Linked DNA regions of Homo sapiens. The protein of the gene in region 2 interacts with the protein of the main gene of each other region in a pairwise test. Each region holds a gene or a part of one and is shown on either strand. Other genes may lie near its edges.

Region 1 (3,603 bases), on a different chromosome or scaffold from region 2:
GCCTGACTGGCCCCAGTACCCACGGTGCTCCCAAAAGCCTCAGCCCAGCCCAGGACCACCCTCCTCGGAACCGGCCCTGCCCTGCCCTGGGCCTGTTGTTGTCTGTTCATCAGCCACGTGGCAGCGGCGGCAGGAGGCTGGGCCCAGGGCTGACCTCCATCTGTGCCCCGGCTCCCACTCACCTTCAGCCTAGCCAGGGCAGGGGCAAAGCAAGTCTGTGGGCCCCTCCACACCACTCAGGTGGGTGCTGCCCAGCACAGGCGAGCGGCAGAGCGTGCTGGGCTGAGCAGGTGGATGGGGGCCCCAAGAGGTGGGCTCCTGCGCGAGGCGGTGGGTGCTCAGAGACCCCGTCTCCAGGGAAAGAAAGTCCCTCCTGTGAGTATAAAGAGGGTGAAGGCGGGGACTGGCCTCCACTCAACGGGCAGCAGACCAAGAACCTGCTTTGAGGCCCTGGGTGCTGGGGCCCAGCCCCAAAGAGTTCACGATTTTGGGGAGACTGGAGCCGGGACACCTAGAGCAATAGTTACAAAGTGGCCGGGATGGCGCTGCCCCCAACGTAGCAGGAGGGGCCTGGAGAGTGGGGGAAGGAATCCCACGGGGAGGGCTTCTGGGGCCCTGGAGGGCGGGAGGCAGGGCTGGTGGAGACCAGGAGGGCTCAGTCTCTCCCTGCACAACGCAGGGTGGAGTTGCTGCCTCCACAGCCCGGGCCTTCTGCCCACAGGGCTCCCCAGGCAACTTCGAGGGCCGGGTCCTCACAGTCCTCACTCTGTCCAGTGCTCACCTCACTGCTGCCCCAGCTGCCCTCCCTGCCTCGGAGTGGCCTCTGCCTCTGCCTCTGCCTCACACACCCCATCAGCCCACAGCCACCCCGAGCCCTTGCAGCTCAAGGACCTTCTGCATCCCCGGCAGCAACCCTGAGCCCAGAGCCAGGAGAGTAGGACCAGCACCTGCCCTTCCTACCTCCCCTGCCCTGGACACCCACGGGCACCCACAGGGCACCGGGCACAGGCTGCAACTCTATTGAGGGAACTATGGGGGGAATGCAGGGACAAAGACACAGGATGGTGATGGATGGTGGGGGGTGGGGGGCGGGGGGTAGCGGGTGGCAGGTCAGAGACAAAGTGACCCAGGAACGGACGGCAGCGAGAGAACAAGACCCACAGAGACAGAGAAGTGAAAGTGGGAGAGATGGAGGCACAGCAGCAGGAACAGCAGGGCCAGGAGGCCACTGGGCCCCGTTGCGGAGGGCAGACCTCTGCCTGGCGGGGGGCAGCAGGGGCAGCGCCCAGCGACAGCCAGGCTGGTGGGCGTGGGCCAGGCAGGGTGGGGCAGGTGCCCGTCCTGGGCTGACGCTTGCACAGAGCCCTGCAGAATGCCGCTGGCTGGCGGACTGCCCACCCCCGCCCAGCCCGTGCCTATAAGGCCTTGGCAATGCAGGGGCCCGCACTGCTCCCAGACGACATCAGAGATGAGGACAGCATTGCTGCTCCTTGCAGCCCTGGCTGTGGCTACAGGGCCAGGTGAGGGGCTGGGCCAAGGGGACGGGCGGGTGGGCGGCTGTGGCCTGTGTGGTCACCAAATACTAGGAGCCTGGAGCTGACGACATCTAGGCACAGAGAACCCCGACACTGTGGGTGCTAGACTCTTCAAATTTAAAACAACATGGAGCCCGAATCTTAACGAGTGTCAGATTTACAATGTTTCAGAATCTGAGGATCTTAGAACTGACTCCTGGAGTCACGGACCCTGAGAGAGTGGAGCAGGGGGTTGTCTTGAGATGCTTCTCACTGGGAGAGCGGCCATCTAGTCCCTGCCACCAGCCCCTCCCGGTCCCCAGGTCTCCCCCAGCACAGCCCAGGACAGCCCAAAGGCCACCAAGCCCTTCCTGTCATAGGCTCAGAGCAGCCAAGCTGGCTGCCCCCGGGGCCTTAGCTCCGTCAGGCCCTCAGAAACATAGCCATCTCCTCCAGGGACATCCCCTGGGGTGGGGACAAGAGCCAGTGTCCTCTTGGCAGTCGCAGAGCTCCCTGAGACCTTGGAGGAAAGGCTTGCAACACACCCTAGACAGGGGCAGGGCAGGACACCTCTTCCAAGCCGGCCCAGGCTGGAATACATGTCCCCTGAGGCTGCACTCAGGGCACATGCCCTGCCAGGACCCAGAGCCCGGGTTTGGGGGCCTAGGGCAAGGGCAGCAGGGCCTCTGTCCAGGAGGGGTCTCTGCAGGTGGGGGAGCAGGCCCTGCTGAGTCACCAGGAGGCCTCTGTTGGGCCCGCTGAGCCGGACTCCCTCCCCGCCAGCCCTTACCCTGCGCTGCCACGTGTGCACCAGCTCCAGCAACTGCAAGCATTCTGTGGTCTGCCCGGCCAGCTCTCGCTTCTGCAAGACCACGAACACAGGTGGGTAGCATCTGTCCAGGTGTCCCTGGGGCTGGGGGACATCCCTGGCTGTTGTGGGTGTTGGCTGGAAGGTTGTGGGGAGGTGGGGGGCAGAGGTGGCTGCCTGGCCTGACCACACTCACCTGTGCCCAGTGGAGCCTCTGAGGGGGAATCTGGTGAAGAAGGACTGTGCGGAGTCGTGCACACCCAGCTACACCCTGCAAGGCCAGGTCAGCAGCGGCACCAGCTCCACCCAGTGCTGCCAGGAGGACCTGTGCAATGAGAAGCTGCACAACGCTGCACCCACCCGCACCGCCCTCGCCCACAGTGCCCTCAGCCTGGGGCTGGCCCTGAGCCTCCTGGCCGTCATCTTAGCCCCCAGCCTGTGACCTTCCCCCCAGGGAAGGCCCCTCATGCCTTTCCTTCCCTTTCTCTGGGGATTCCACACCTCTCTTCCCCAGCCGCAACGGGGGTGCCAGGAGCCCCAGGCTGAGGGCTTCCCCGAAAGTCTGGGACCAGGTCCAGGTGGGCATGGAATGCTGATGACTTGGAGCAGGCCCCACAGACCCCACAGAGGATGAAGCCACCCCACAGAGGATGCAGCCCCCAGCTGCATGGAAGGTGGAGGACAGAAGCCCTGTGGATCCCCGGATTTCACACTCCTTCTGTTTTGTTGCCGTTTATTTTTGTACTCAAATCTCTACATGGAGATAAATGATTTAAACCAGTGTGGCTGTGGCTGTGCTATTCTGGGACGGAGGAGCTGAGGGGCGGATATCAGGCCACATAGGTACCCTGAGCCTCCAGCACATGTCCCCTGGGGCCAGTCGTGGGGTGATGCCTGAGGTGGCACCGTCCGTCCCCACCCTGGAAGGGGCAGGCTGCTCAGATGCCTCCCACCGCCCCAGAGGTGGAGGGCACTCCTGGGGTGAGGCCTGAGTAGGAGCACAGGGTAAGAGGGCTCGCAGGCCCCTCCCACACATAGCACCTAGGGGAGAAGGAACCCCTCAGCCTTTCACCCCGGGTCATGTCTCTGAGACCGGGGTTCAGGAGCCTCCAGAGAGGCCGGCTTGGGACACCCCAGGCCCAACCCCAGCTTTGGAGCCAAGTAGGCACTGACTACCTACAGCCATCGCCAAGGCAAGTCCAGCTGCCCAGGGAAAGTTCAGCCACCATCCAGGAAAGTCCCATGGACCCTATCTATGGGAACCCAGCAGCCCCTTGGCCA
Region 2 (4,101 bases):
TTAGGCGGGTGCAGAAGCTACTGCAGTTTTTGCCAGTACTTTTTTGCAATTACTTTTGCACTAACCTAATACAAAACAAAATGTGCCTACATCACAATTCAGAAAAATCACAGCTTTATTAGCAGAGTATAATTTAAGGAAGTCAATCAATCCTGAAGGCAGAAAGACCTAAGTTCAAAACTGATTTGGAATCTTCTCAGCTATTTAGCCTTGTTCAAAGTATCTAACCTTGCTGAACCTCAGTTTACTATCTGAAAATAGAGAAAATTATTACTATATTGTGGAGGTATGAATATTGAATAATTTAAAGAACTTGATTGTACTACCATTAGCACACACTGAATAAAATATTAGTCTGATTATATTTTCGTATTTCCATATTTAGGCTTTTGCCTAAAAAGGGAATTTGGAAGTGGTCATTGGCAGGTGTCATAGGCTTTGGGTGGCAAGTCAGAGCATAGTATGAATGAGCAAATTAGTAAAGACTAGAGATAAGAGAAGACTTTGAGTACTAATTAAGAGTTTCAGGAGACCAGAGGAGATTTTAAGACTTCAGTGAGAAACCACTTTCTCAGGAAGCAGATAAATTAATTTTATCAGCAGTATCGTCGTCCATGTAATATGGCTTTTAAAAAGCACAGTGAGACCTTAGTAGTAACGACTTTATTTTTCTTAGTGAGAACCTGAAAGTGAAACTTGATATACATTATTTTCTGCTTTTATTGCACAAAAAGTTGTTTCCATTGCATATTGCTTCCTAATCTGTTAAAATAATCTGTTAACAAACTCGAAGACCCAGATTCGGGGCGTAGATAAGCCTGTGTACCTTCCTACCTTCTCCAAACAGCCAACATTAGATCAAAGGGCAACCTTAATGACACCTGGAGCACAAACCCTGCTCAGGGCGCGTACAACCGGAGGGACAGAAAACACGATGCGACGTCGGAAAGCAGGAAGGGAATTGAAATTCCCGCAGTCACGTCACAGAAATCTTAGCAGAACCTCATCATCGCCCAAGGGAACTGGGAGTGGCGGGCGGGGAGGACGCGGGTTGTGTGACGATCACCGATAATTAGTTGGTGGTTAACGCACAAGTAGGATAAAAGAGCTCGCCCCAGGCTGCCAGCAGAAAAAAGCTACCGTGGCACGTGCCCCGGGGAGTGATGCGGTGGCCCGGTTTGCACGGAGAGCGGGACACCGCCTGGGGAGCCGCGCTCGTAGCCTGGGGGCGGGACGCGGCGGCCGCTCCCTCCGCCCCCGAGTAGCTGCCACCGCCTGGCTGCGCCCCAGCCCAGTAGCTCAGACGCGGCCGCATCCCGGTGGACTGTAGAGGCGGCAGCGAGCTAGAGCCCGAGTCGCAGCTCCGGGCCGCAGAGCGCTGGGCGAGCGCGAGCGCCAGGGCACCGGCAGGGCAGGCAGCTGCGCGCGGCTGGTACGTACCTGGTGGAGCGGGCGCGTGAGTGGGTGTCCCTATGCGAGGAGGGAGGAGTGGGACTTGGGAAGTCGGGGGAGACTGACCCAGGGAAGATGTGGTAAGTGCAACTTTCCTATTTTCTGCCCTGCTGGCACAAATATGGGGGGAGTTCGAAGCAGATGCCTCTTTCGCTTGGGCGACCCGATCCATCGTTTAACTCACAAGTCAGGGTACTTAGAGAGTGAAAAGGACGCTCACGCCAACAGGCGTGACGTGGGAGGTCTGTCACCTGCCTTTTGCCCACTCTGCCCTGCAGGTGGCCATTGATGACCTCCTGTCACAAGTCGCTGAGTCCTTCGGCTCTCGCGCCAGCAATGCCAAGTCTTTCCCCTGGGCGGTGCTTACCAAGCCCCGGGTAGTCACGAGCGGCCGCGGGGTTAGCAGAGACCCGAGTACTAACCCGCTCGGCCAGCGTCCGGCTGTGTGGCTTTAGCCAAGTCACCTCACCTCACTGGCCTCCGTCCATTCTTTGGATAAAATATGGAGGTGGGTAGACCGAGTAAACTCAAGGGTCGCCCGTAGCTATTGGATTTTCCCTGCTCCTAGGACCCCGGCAGGCCGCAGGGAGGGACACGAGTGCCAGGTGGTCGCGGGCTGAGGGAGCGGAGGGCCTGTGTTCCGGTTGGTGCTGATGCTAGCCCCTTGGGGAAATTCCTGAAGGTGCATTTCGGAGCCAAATGACCCTGCCTTGCAGCAGGTCCCTTCCAAGGGAGCTGAGAGGGCCAGGTCAGACCGGTCTTCGTAGAGCTCCCCGGGGAACGCAGCCAACGGAACTCGGGTCCTTTAGAAAAGTGCATGCGTGAACTAGGCATGTGGGAAGCACTAAAACAAACAACAAACAAACAACAAAACACCCTGCAGGTGGTAGTGTTATTAGCTGGAGTCTGTGCAGGACTGGAAAGTGGAGATTTGAGGCGAATGACCACTTAAACGTTCATCTAGAAAAAAAATTTTAAAAAAACTCTTTTATCAGTGGTTTGCATACTGAAAGGTATTGAATTAGAAATATTGCGAGTATTGCATTTCTCTTCGTGTACAGATAGATTTCAAAATTCATCTGTCCACTTTATCTCTTCACAAGATGCCTTCCTTCTTACTGACATTGCCACACATTCAAAAAAAATCCTCCTGGGATTTTATATTTAGAAAGCTCAGCATTTGGATTATTAAAATGAGAACTGATGACCATAATGCTCACGGAAAATGGGGTAGGTTATGGATCAAGTTTGGTTAAATCAGCAGTTTATAAACCTTGTTTCCTGTTAGTGTGCCGGGTGCTGGTCAATGCCCCCCTAGTGACACTATCTCAAGAGATCATTTGCTAAAAAGGTGTTTTGGAAGTTCAAAAGATTCGATTTTGAAGGAAAGTATAGCTTTGGAAAGGAAATCTTTTGGAAAACGTTTTTAGTAATGGACTTCTCAATCTTATCTTTACCACAACTTTCTTCAATAAAATATCAAAGACTAATGGACCACATTATGCAGAATATTTTAAAATGTGTCAAATTTCATTTTTGTTAAAGAGTTTTTCCTCCTTTTTAGTCGATTGCAAACATATTGTTTAGATCAATGATAGATCAATTTAATTTTCCTCACAGTTCTTACAATTATTTAAATTCTTACGCAGTTTGCATTACAGCATTTTTTTACAACTTTATTGAGATATAATTTATATATTATAAAGTTCACCCTTTAAGGGTGAATAATATTTAAAAATTATATTTCAGTGAGTTTTAGAAAATTTGTTAATTTTCTAAAAGTTGTAAAACCATTACCATATCTGGTTTTAGAACATTCCAAAATTGTAAAACCATTACCATATCTGGTTTTAGAACAGTTTACTCACTTGGTAAGATTCCTTATGTCCATTATGTCTTTGTTCCCACTCCCATTCCCAGGCAACCATTAATCTACTTTCAGTCTATAGATTTGCCTTTTCTGAACATTTTATATAAATGGAATGATATACTATATGGTCTTTTGCTTATGGCTTCTCTTACTTAGCATAATGTTTTTGGGGTTCAGCTATGTTGTGGCATGTATCAGTATTTCATTTCTTCTTATTGCTGAATAGTTTTCCATTGTATGGATATACCACATTTTGTCAATTTACTAGTGGATGGATATTTGGGTTGTTTCCAATATGGGAATATTATGAATCATGCTGCTGAGAACATTTGCATTCAAGTGTTTGTGAGTACCCGTTTTCATTTCTCTTGGGTAGATGCTTAACAGTGAAATTGGTAGGTTGTATGACAAACTTGTGTCTAACTTTTAAGGAACACTATAGAGTAATTTTTGTAGAAGTTATATATATAAAAATTTAAAAAATTCTGGAAAAATAAATGTTTCTTACTGGATCATATATGATGTTATATGTATATAGAGAGAGGCTTGGGAGAGGAACCATTGCTTCTCTTCAAATTTAGAGCTGAGGTACAGCAAACACTTTTGAAAAAAATGTCGCAATATTTCTCAGAAACGAGATATTTCTTGCCTAATGTTTTTTAATGCTAAATGAGCATGAATCAGGCTTAATCAAGACTAAATTTTCATTAATGTCAATTGAAAATGAGAAAGCATGCAGTTTGAAAATTGTATTTTAAGTGTTGAGACTTAGCCAGCTC

Evidence for each region.
Region 1: the proteins of PKIB (region 2) and LY6D interact in a two-hybrid assay, tested with the Homo sapiens proteins (one large-scale study listed by BioGRID and IntAct).

What each region holds. Positions count from the first base shown.
Region 1 is NC_000008.11:142,784,382-142,787,984, reverse strand, and holds LY6D (lymphocyte antigen 6D precursor), read left to right. Parts: upstream 1-1,445; 5' UTR 1,446-1,468; coding exon 1,469-1,520; intron 1,521-2,297; coding exon 2,298-2,396; intron 2,397-2,528; coding exon 2,529-2,764; 3' UTR 2,765-3,103; downstream 3,104-3,603. UniProt on the Homo sapiens protein: May act as a specification marker at earliest stage specification of lymphocytes between B- and T-cell development. Marks the earliest stage of B-cell specification.
Region 2 is NC_000006.12:122,609,104-122,613,204, forward strand, and holds the start of PKIB (cAMP-dependent protein kinase inhibitor beta), read left to right. Parts: upstream 1-1,301; 5' UTR 1,302-1,432; exon of another isoform or gene 1,433-1,532; intron 1,533-4,101. UniProt on the Homo sapiens protein: Extremely potent competitive inhibitor of cAMP-dependent protein kinase activity, this protein interacts with the catalytic subunit of the enzyme after the cAMP-induced dissociation of its regulatory chains.